2 separate regions of the Homo sapiens genome follow, and region 1 is linked to region 2. The links come from fine-mapping of genetic effects on gene expression. Tissue or cell type: whole blood. Region 2 holds a variant in brackets; the other region holds the start of a gene. All regions are shown on one strand. Distances are from middle to middle. Region 1 holds the start of PWP1 (PWP1 homolog, endonuclein). Region 2 overlaps PRDM4 (PR/SET domain 4).

Evidence for each region. PIP is the estimated chance that this variant, and not a neighbour inherited with it, causes the effect.
Region 1: PWP1 starts here. The variant in region 2 is the best candidate, but not a certain one, in a credible set for the expression of PWP1 in whole blood (TOPMed, PIP 0.62).

What each region holds. Positions count from the first base shown.
Region 1 is chr12:107,683,799-107,688,193 of GRCh38, forward strand. PWP1 (PWP1 homolog, endonuclein) reads left to right here and starts at 2,001. Exons shown (of 15, transcript NM_007062.3): 1 at 2,001-2,173. The coding sequence starts at 2,102. RefSeq lists enhancers at 1,810-2,069, 2,290-2,339.
Region 2 is chr12:107,743,279-107,747,673 of GRCh38, forward strand. PRDM4 (PR/SET domain 4) reads right to left here. Exons shown (of 12, transcript NM_012406.4): 6 at 2,997-3,146; 7 at 1,265-1,383; 8 at 1-4. The region is part of intron 3 of PRDM4-AS1 (PRDM4 antisense RNA 1); the gene reads left to right. Among named protein-coding and RNA genes, the nearest start is that of PRDM4-AS1, 8.9 kb to the left of the region's middle. The variant C/T (reference allele first, on the strand shown) is at 2,249.

The DNA.
Region 1 (4,395 bases), 59 kb before region 2:
AGTTTTATATTTTTAGTAGAGACGGGGTTTCACTACGTTGGCCAGGCTTGTCTAGAACTCCTGACCTTGTAATCCAACTGCCTCGGCCTCCCAAAGTGCTGGGATTACAGGCATGAGCCACTGCACCCAGCTGAGATCTGATAGTTTTATAAAGGGGAGTTCCCCTGCACATGCTCTCTTCTTGCCTGCTGCCATGTAAGACATGCCTTTCTTCTCTTTTGCCTTCTGCAGTGATTGTGAGGCTTCCCCAGCCAACTGAAACTGTGAGTCCATTAAACCTCTTTTTCTTTATAAATTATCATGTCTTGGGTATGTCTTTATTAGCAGTGTGAGAACAGACTACCACAGTAGCCAAACTTTATATGGTGGCTCAGGGCTCCAAACATTAGTGTTCTACTGGTGGGCAGTGGGGGAGTGGGTGGGGGGTGTGGAAGTGGAGAAGTGGGTGTGGTGGTGGGGAAGCAAAACCTGCATCCTATTTATGACTTAACCTTGGAAACATCATTTCTGTCATACTTTATTGGCCAAAGCAGACCTACAACTACCCAGATTCAAGTTGGTGGGGGCGGGGGGGGGTGCTTTGATGGAGGAATATCAAGATCACGTTGCAGACAAACATGTGTGAAGGACTCTATTGTTGCAGCCATCCTTGAAAAATATTATCTGCCATATGGTCTTTCTAAAATGGGTTAAAAGCAAAGAAACCACAGAAGAATCATCTTACAGAAACAGAGCAGGGGGAGAAGTCTTAATGGACAAATAATCTGCCTACACAAACAATGAGCAATTTACTTCTGGGAGGATCTCTCCTCAGGCAGGGAGATTGCCAAGCGCATTAGGCTGAGTAGAGTTGGTGACAGAACTCATAGTTGTATCAGCTCCTCTGTGTGTGATCTGAGTAGGAAAGTATTTGACTACTGGGGACTCTAGCTTCATCTTTAAAACAAAGTGTTGTGAGAACCAAGTAAAATACTGTATAGAAAGATAAATGTGTTGCAAAAAGGTCCCCGAATAGAGCCCACAGGTGGACACCCCCCGTTTGACAATGCCACTGGGAAAGACCATGTGTACTGCCAGTTTATCCTTGCCACTGTTTCCCCATAGCAGCCACCTTCCTGTTTCTTTTGCTTGCCTCTCTCAGAGGTAGATGCATTGAGGGTAAATGACCAGGACAGGGCCACACAGCCAAGAGATCAAAACCCAGATTTTTCTGGGATGCTAGTTTGAGATTTTCCATTCTACAAACGTCCAGCCACTCACGAGTTCTAACAGATGACTGATCTTAGCTGAGAAGCATGACATAGATACAAGGGAGTCACACTGCCCGGGTTCATATCCCAGCTGCACCGCTTACTAGCAGTGTGACCTTTGGAAGGATCGCTGTTTTCCCAGGTGTAAAACGGAAATAAGACCTCCCACAAAGGGGTAAGTAATCACGTGATACGGCACTCAAAACAGCGCCTTCAACATAAGTAAGCCCTTTGTGTTTGCCAAGACTAAATCACTACTGCATAGTTAGTATATAATTGGTGCTAAATGTTTTTTTCTCACTTTTTTTTTTGGTGCTAAATGTTTTAAGGTGAGAAAGTAACATTTAGGGATGTAATGAGATGTAATGGTGGGATCTCCGTGAAACGACAAATTCATTTTGGAGAAAGCTTTTTAAAAAACGCAAACCACAAACCTCTGCCATTTGTCAGCTTGAAGTCTACGGAACTGCAAGCAAAATAAAGATTGGTGAAACTTTGCTTCTGACTGACCCCTACAGTCCCAAATATTTTCTTGGCCTTTACAAAGCCCGCAGGCATCGTCACATGCAGTCCTGAAAAGCCTTTTCTCTATACTTCACACAGCCCAGACCAGCCCACGTGGATTCCTCGCCCGGCTGCTTCCGCTTCCATTTTGTCCCCTCCTATTTCTCATTCGGCGCCTCAGAATGACGTCTGAAATGAGCGCCGACGCTGCCCAAACAGGAGCCTGCGCATGCGCTCTGCCCTGGCAGCGGCCCTGTGCAGATCCCTGAGCGTGTGGCAGCAGTGCGGTCGTGGTCCCTCCCTATGCAGCCTGGTTTCTAGCGTGACACGCCCTTGACTTGAGGACCATGAACCGCAGCCGCCAGGTGACGTGCGTGGCCTGGGTCCGCTGCGGCGTGGCCAAAGAGACACCAGACAAGGTGAGGCCTGGTCGCTGGGAGACAAGGGGAGCAGCGTCTTTACGGCACTGGGGGTCCGCCCAGCTGGGGGAACGTGGACCCGGAACTCGGGGCGTTGGCTGGTGCGACTGGCTGGGGTGAGGGCGGCTTTGCCCGGATTGTCGCGACTAGAGCTGCAGTTCAGAAGGTCTGGTTCGCCTGAGCCTGGAGAGTCAAGGGCCGCGCCTTCTCACTGTTCCCACCCTCAAGCCCAACCCCACTCCCAAATTCGCACGCACATGGACTTAGCGGGCCGGAAAGGGGTGGGCTGCTGTTTTTGGTGGGTAATACCCCAAAAGGCTTTTTGACAACACCACTAGCTTCACTAGCACCCAAGTGCATTTTCAAGCATAACTGGGAAGAGAGCATGAAAACTCCACTTTCCACTCTTGTGCTCCGTGTCTGAAGGAGTGAGGATGAATGTGGTGTAGAAAAACTGGTGTGGAGGCTAAGATGTCGTGAGGCTGGGAGATGAATAGGGAATTTCTTGCAGTAATCCAAGTGAGATGTTGATGGTAGCAGGGAGGATGAGAGGTAAATGTCTAACACATGAAAAACCTACAAGAGTTGGAGACTGAGACTGTAGCAGAGGTGACGATTACTTAAGTAATTTCCTCATTGGATACTAAGTGCTTTCTGTAGGCCAGGCATTGTTCAGGGTCCTGGGATAGGCATGAACAAAATAGAAAAAGTCCCGCCGGGCGCGGTGGCTCACGCCTGTAATCCCAGCACTTTGGGAGGCCAAGGCGGGCGGATCACGAGGTCAGGAGATCGAGAGCATCCTGGCTAACACGGTGAAACCCCGTCTCTACTAAAAATACAAAAAATTAGCCGGGTGTGGTGGTGGATGCCTGTAGTCCCAGCTACTCGGGAGGCTGAGGCAGGAGAATGGCGTGAACCCGGGAGGCGGAGCTTGCAGTGAGCCGAGATCGCACAGCTGCACTCCAGCCTGGGCGGGCAACAGAGTGAGACTCCGTCTCAAAAAAAAAAAAAAAAAAAAAAAAAAAAAAATAGAAAAAGACCCTGCCTTTATGGAGTCGACATGTGCACATATAGTATGTCAGTGGGAGTTAAGTTCTACCAAACAGTAAAAGGGGTTGATTTGAATGTACTTGACCAAGATAATGATGATGGTGATAGGAATGTGATTGGCTTGGACATGGAGTTAACAGGAATGACGGATTGGAGTAGTCCCAGTAGTTGTAAATTCCACCTGGGCACAGACTGTTTTATTTACTGTTTCTCCAGGGTTTGGTTGATGGTAGGCACTCGGTGTTACATTTATAGAATAGGGACAGAAAATTATTTCATATAAAAATTGTTGGAGGAAACAGTTATTAAAAAGAGACATATAGCCTTTCAAATACTTGAAGACTGATTTCCAAATGAATCTACACATTGAAAATCTCACACTTGGGGAGGTTCAAAAAATACTGATGTTTATGTCCCACTCCCAAGTATTGTGTTGTAATTAGCCTGTAGTGTAGCCTAAATTATTTAAGATTCCCTAGGTGATTCTGATGTACAGATAAGTCTGGGAACCACTATTTGAAGAGTTTATAGGAAAAAGAGATTGAATTTATGAAATCCTAGAAAGGAAAACTTGGACCAAATGAGAGAAATTGGACAAGCCAGTTGCGGTGGCTCGTGCCTGTAATCCTAGTCATTCAGGAAGCTGAGGTGGGAGGATCGCATGAGCCCAGGAGTTCACAGCTGCAGGGAGCTGTGACCATGCCACATCTCTTAAAAATTAAAATTAAGGCCGGGCACGGTGGCTCACGCCTGTAATCCCAGCACTTTGGGAGCCCGAGGCAGGTGGATCATTTGAGGTCAGGAGTTCCAGACCAGCCCGGCCAACATGGTGAAACCCAGTCTCTACCAAAATACAAAAATTAGCTGGGCGTGGTGGCGCGTGCCTGTAATCCCAGCTGCTCAAGAGGCTAAGGCAGGAGAATCGCTTGAACCCGGGAGGTGGAGGTTGCAGTGAGCCGAGATGGCGCCATTGCTCTTCAGCCTGGGCAACAGAGCGAGACTCCGTCTCAAAAAAAAAAAAAAAAAAAAAAAAAAAAAAGAACAGAGGACTCATGTAAGGGTGATTTGTTAAGGAATGCCCACAGGGAAGAGAGGGAGAGGTGCCCTAGACAGAGTCAGAGATGGTTGGAAGAAAACCAGACGAGTACCACACAGCCACTTTACCAAAACCA
Region 2 (4,395 bases):
ATATCTGCCAACAGAAAGCAAGCACACATGTCAAATGCACTGACATGCAATAAAGCACTACATTACACTTAGGCCAGCAATCACCTCATTTACTCATTTGCAGTAGGTCCCAGCTTTCTTAGTGGGAAAATATATTCCTACTTCTCCAACATGCTATCATTTCAACATTCTCCCTATTTCCAGCAATACATAAAGACCATCAGAGACCTACAGTTAGTGCTCAGTGAAGAGACTGACTTTGTTTTTGATTATTCAACCTTTGCCTGGAAAAGACAAAAAACCAGTCTACCTGTCCACCTGTCTTCATCACCTATCACACAGTAGGCACTGAATGACTGAATGTCCATTAAGGGCAGAGGATCATCCCTTGTCATGATTTTCCCACTTGGGCCTAGCATTCCAAATTTAAAGTTCCCAATGACAGTGGTACCTTACCTTTCCAAAGATCACAAGACCCATTTTCTCCTTACTTCAATTTCGCAAGCATCATTCCCAATAGATATCTATGTGAAAATGTTGTATTTCTAACCCCTCATTAGAAAACTAGAAAAATAGGCCAGGTGCGGTGGCTCACACCTGTAATCCCGGCACTTTGGGAGGCTGAGGTGGGCAGATCACTTGAGGTCAGGAGTTTAAGACCAGTCTGGCCAACATGGGGAAACCCCGTCTCTACAAAAATACAAAAATTAGCTGGGCATGATGGCAAGTGCCTGTAAATTCAGCTACTTGGGAGGCTGAGGTGGGAGAGTCACCTGAGCCCAGGAGGTAGAGGTGGCAGTAAGCTAAGATTGTACCATTACACTCCAGCCTGGGCAACAGAGCAAGACTCCATCTCAAGGAAGAAAAAAAAAGAAAACTAGAAAAATAATCTTAGCTTCTTATTCCAGAATTATTTCCTAAGATAAACATTTGAGGAATGTTTTAATTACAAAGTAAGACTTTTATCATACAAACAAAGTCTGTGGCCTCAGCAGTCACAAGTAATTCAAATGCATTAAATGGTTAAAATAATTGGATTAACTCACAAAACAGAGACAAAAACAGTTTGTCCTCTATTTCCAGTAGCTGGTGTTTTGCTGTATGTTATAATTTGGCTACCAAGAATGATGAATGTAACATTTAAAAAAATGTACGTGAAATAAATGACTGACCAGTGAATGGCACTGTATCAGTTCTGGCTGATTTTGACTTTATCATAACTTTTTAACTACCTCTTACTAAGAAAAACAGCCAAAAGCCACAGAAAAGTTTCATCAGGACTGACCTTCCAGATATGGTTAACTGCCTTGTCTGTCCATTCTGCTACTTCCATGGAGTGACTCTGCTGGCCAATTAGAGGTCCAAAGCAAGTCCGCACAGGAATGGTTTCTCCAGTCCATACACCTGTCAGTGGAAGGACACCAACTACACAATCAATGATTTAAACAGCAAGATACAGAAGAAAGAGGTGCTTCACCCATGCAAAGAATCTTATTTTCAATGAATTTAACCAATATGTAGGCTGGGCGTGGTGGCTCACGCCTGTTATCCCGGCACTTTGGGAGGCCGAGGTGGGCAGATCACCTGAGGTCAGGAGTTTGAGATCAGCTTGGCCAACAGGGTGAAACCCGGTCTCTACTAAAAATACAAAAATTAGCTGGGCGTGGTGGCGCACGCCTGTAGTCCCAGCTACTTGGGAGGCTGAGGCAGAAGAATTGCTTGAACCCAGGAGGCGGAGGTTGCAGTGAGCAGAGATAGGGCCAATGCACTCCAGCCTGGGTGACAAAGCGAGACTCTGTCTCAAAAAAAATAAAAAAATAAAAAAAACAATATGCTAGCATTCCTCAGAGGTGACTAAGCCTTGTGGGTCCTAGCCCTGTAAATATATAAAATGTAATGAACAGATAACATAGGGCTCACAATAAATGCTGAGTAAGAAGAAATATCAGGAATTCCTGAACCTAGTTTTATCCAAAGGGAATCTTTTCATGTCTCTCCAAATACATTATTTTGGAGTTAAATATAAAAAAGTTTGTAGCTCACACATATAATGAGCCAACACTTTGGGAGGCCAAGGCAGGACTGCTTGAGGCCAGGAGTTCGAAACCAGCCTCGGCAACATAGTGAGATGCTGTCTCTACAAAAAAAATTTTTTTTTTAATTAGCTGGGCATGATTGCATATGCCTGTAGTCCCAGCTACTTGGAAGGTTGCGGCAGGATGATTGCTTGAGCCCAGGAGGTCAAGGCTGCACTCGAGTTACTGTACTC[C/T]GTATGTTAGGCCAGTGCACTCCAGCCTGGGCAACAGAGTGAGACCCAGTCTCTTAAAAATAAATAAATAAAAAATAACAGAAAACATTATTCTATTGTAAAAATATAAAGCAATTACTATAGAAATAAATCAGACTTCTAAAATCTTTTGTGCTTAAAGCACTGCTCTATTTTACCTAAACTGTTTGATGCTTTGAAATGACTCACACCCAAACTGCAGCTAAAAGAATAATGAACCTAATTTTATATTTCCAAAGAAATGTCGCAGTAACTCAGAAGCCATGCTAAATTCAAATATGGGTAAGTAAAGTCTGGCAATCTACATTCTTTATTCCTTTTATCTAAGGAGCATTATATAATTTACAAACATTTGATCTAAAGTTGTGTCATAAGGTGAATTTTCCATGTTTCTATAAAAGAAACTAAGTTTTAAGAAATGTGTTGTTAGAATAATTGTTAGTGGATGAGACAGATGAGAATAAAAGTTAAATCTTCAAAGACTCAGTCTAGGATTTTTTGCTTTACTCAATACTGATTCTAACAAAGGAGAGATTTCCCAATAAAGTTTTTGACTTGATTTATTGCTATCATCAGTGGACAAGACTAATATTCCATAAAAGCATAAATCTTAAGCCATAAATTGACTTTTGGTCCAAATAATTACTAAATTATACACATCCACTTTTACAACTCTACGCTACAAAGGAAGAAGAGATGTAATAGTGTTTTACAGTTCCAAGGTTCTTACCAACTTCTGCTCCCACAATTGACTGACGGAGAACAAGCTGCTTTGGGAGAGAAAGCCTTGCTCTGCTCTCTATTGGAGTGTCAGGAACAAAAGTCACTGGTCCATGTTCGGGACAGTCCGAGGGATAGGCGCGGTCACACAGAGTACACCCTGTAGATGGCAAATTTGAGCAATACAAATGGGTTTAGTTCAAGCAGGCTAAATTACCACCACGGTTTTTTTTTTTTTTGAGACAAAGTCTTGCTCTGCACCCAGGCTGGAGTGCAATGGCGCGATTTTGGCTCACTGCAACCTCTGCCTCCCGGGTATAAGCGATTCTCCTGTCTGAGCCTCCCATATAGCTGGGACTACAGGCGTGTGCCACCATGCCCAGCTAATTTTTGAATTTTTAATAGAGACAAGGTTTCCTCATGTTGGCCAGGCTTGTCTGGAACTCCTGACCTCAGATGATGCACCCACCTCAGCCTCCCAGAGTGCTGGTATTACAGGTGTAAGCCACCATGCCCAGCCCCAGGTTTTAATTTAAATGCTAATTACTAAAATGTATCCAGTAAGAAGCACGGTTCTAATAGAGATATTCTTATCAAAGACTCACTTCCTTACACTAACATATATACCTACTCTTACACCACTCTTCAGACTTCAGTAAGATCTGATTTTTTTTCTTTTGATCCAACAGGACAAGTTTCCTATTCAGTGCATAAGAGAAACACTAATGAAAAATTGGCTGGGTATGGTAGTTCACGCCTGTAAACCCAGCAGTTTGGGAGGCTGAGAAGGGAGGATCACTTGAGTCCAGGAGTTCAAGACCAGCCTGGGGTAACACAGTGAGATCCCATCTGTTTAAAAAAAATTAAAAATAATAATAAAAGAAAAAAATAGCACCATATTACTTCAACAATCAAGTACATTATCCCTTACATTAAGTAGATCGTACATTTAGGTATGATGCCCTAAAGTCCAAAAGATTCCAATTCTGAACTGTAAGAGGAAACTGAGTTGAAATGCTGTTAGTTATGCAGAGCCAAAATATGGCCACGGTGGTACAGCTGGCTCTGACCCCAGTGACCTATGCTATGAACATAGGACACTGGCGTCAGAGCCAGCTACACCACTGTACTCTTTTGCTTCACTATAAACAAGATGGTCAACCAAGTTTTGAGGACACATTCTTAAGACAAAAACAATTTGCAGCCTGCTCTTTCAAAGGGCAGAAGAATTGTATTCTTGCAGACATTATTTGCTTAAAATTCTTAATTTCTTATTTTTCATATGGTCTTTCTTTCTGCATTGGCAGAGAGGATGCTCCCTTTATATATTGTTCTCTATTCTTACTACAACTTCACTTTCACAAGCTTATGAGTGTCCTCCTCCGTAAATCTTCTGCTCTATTCTTTAC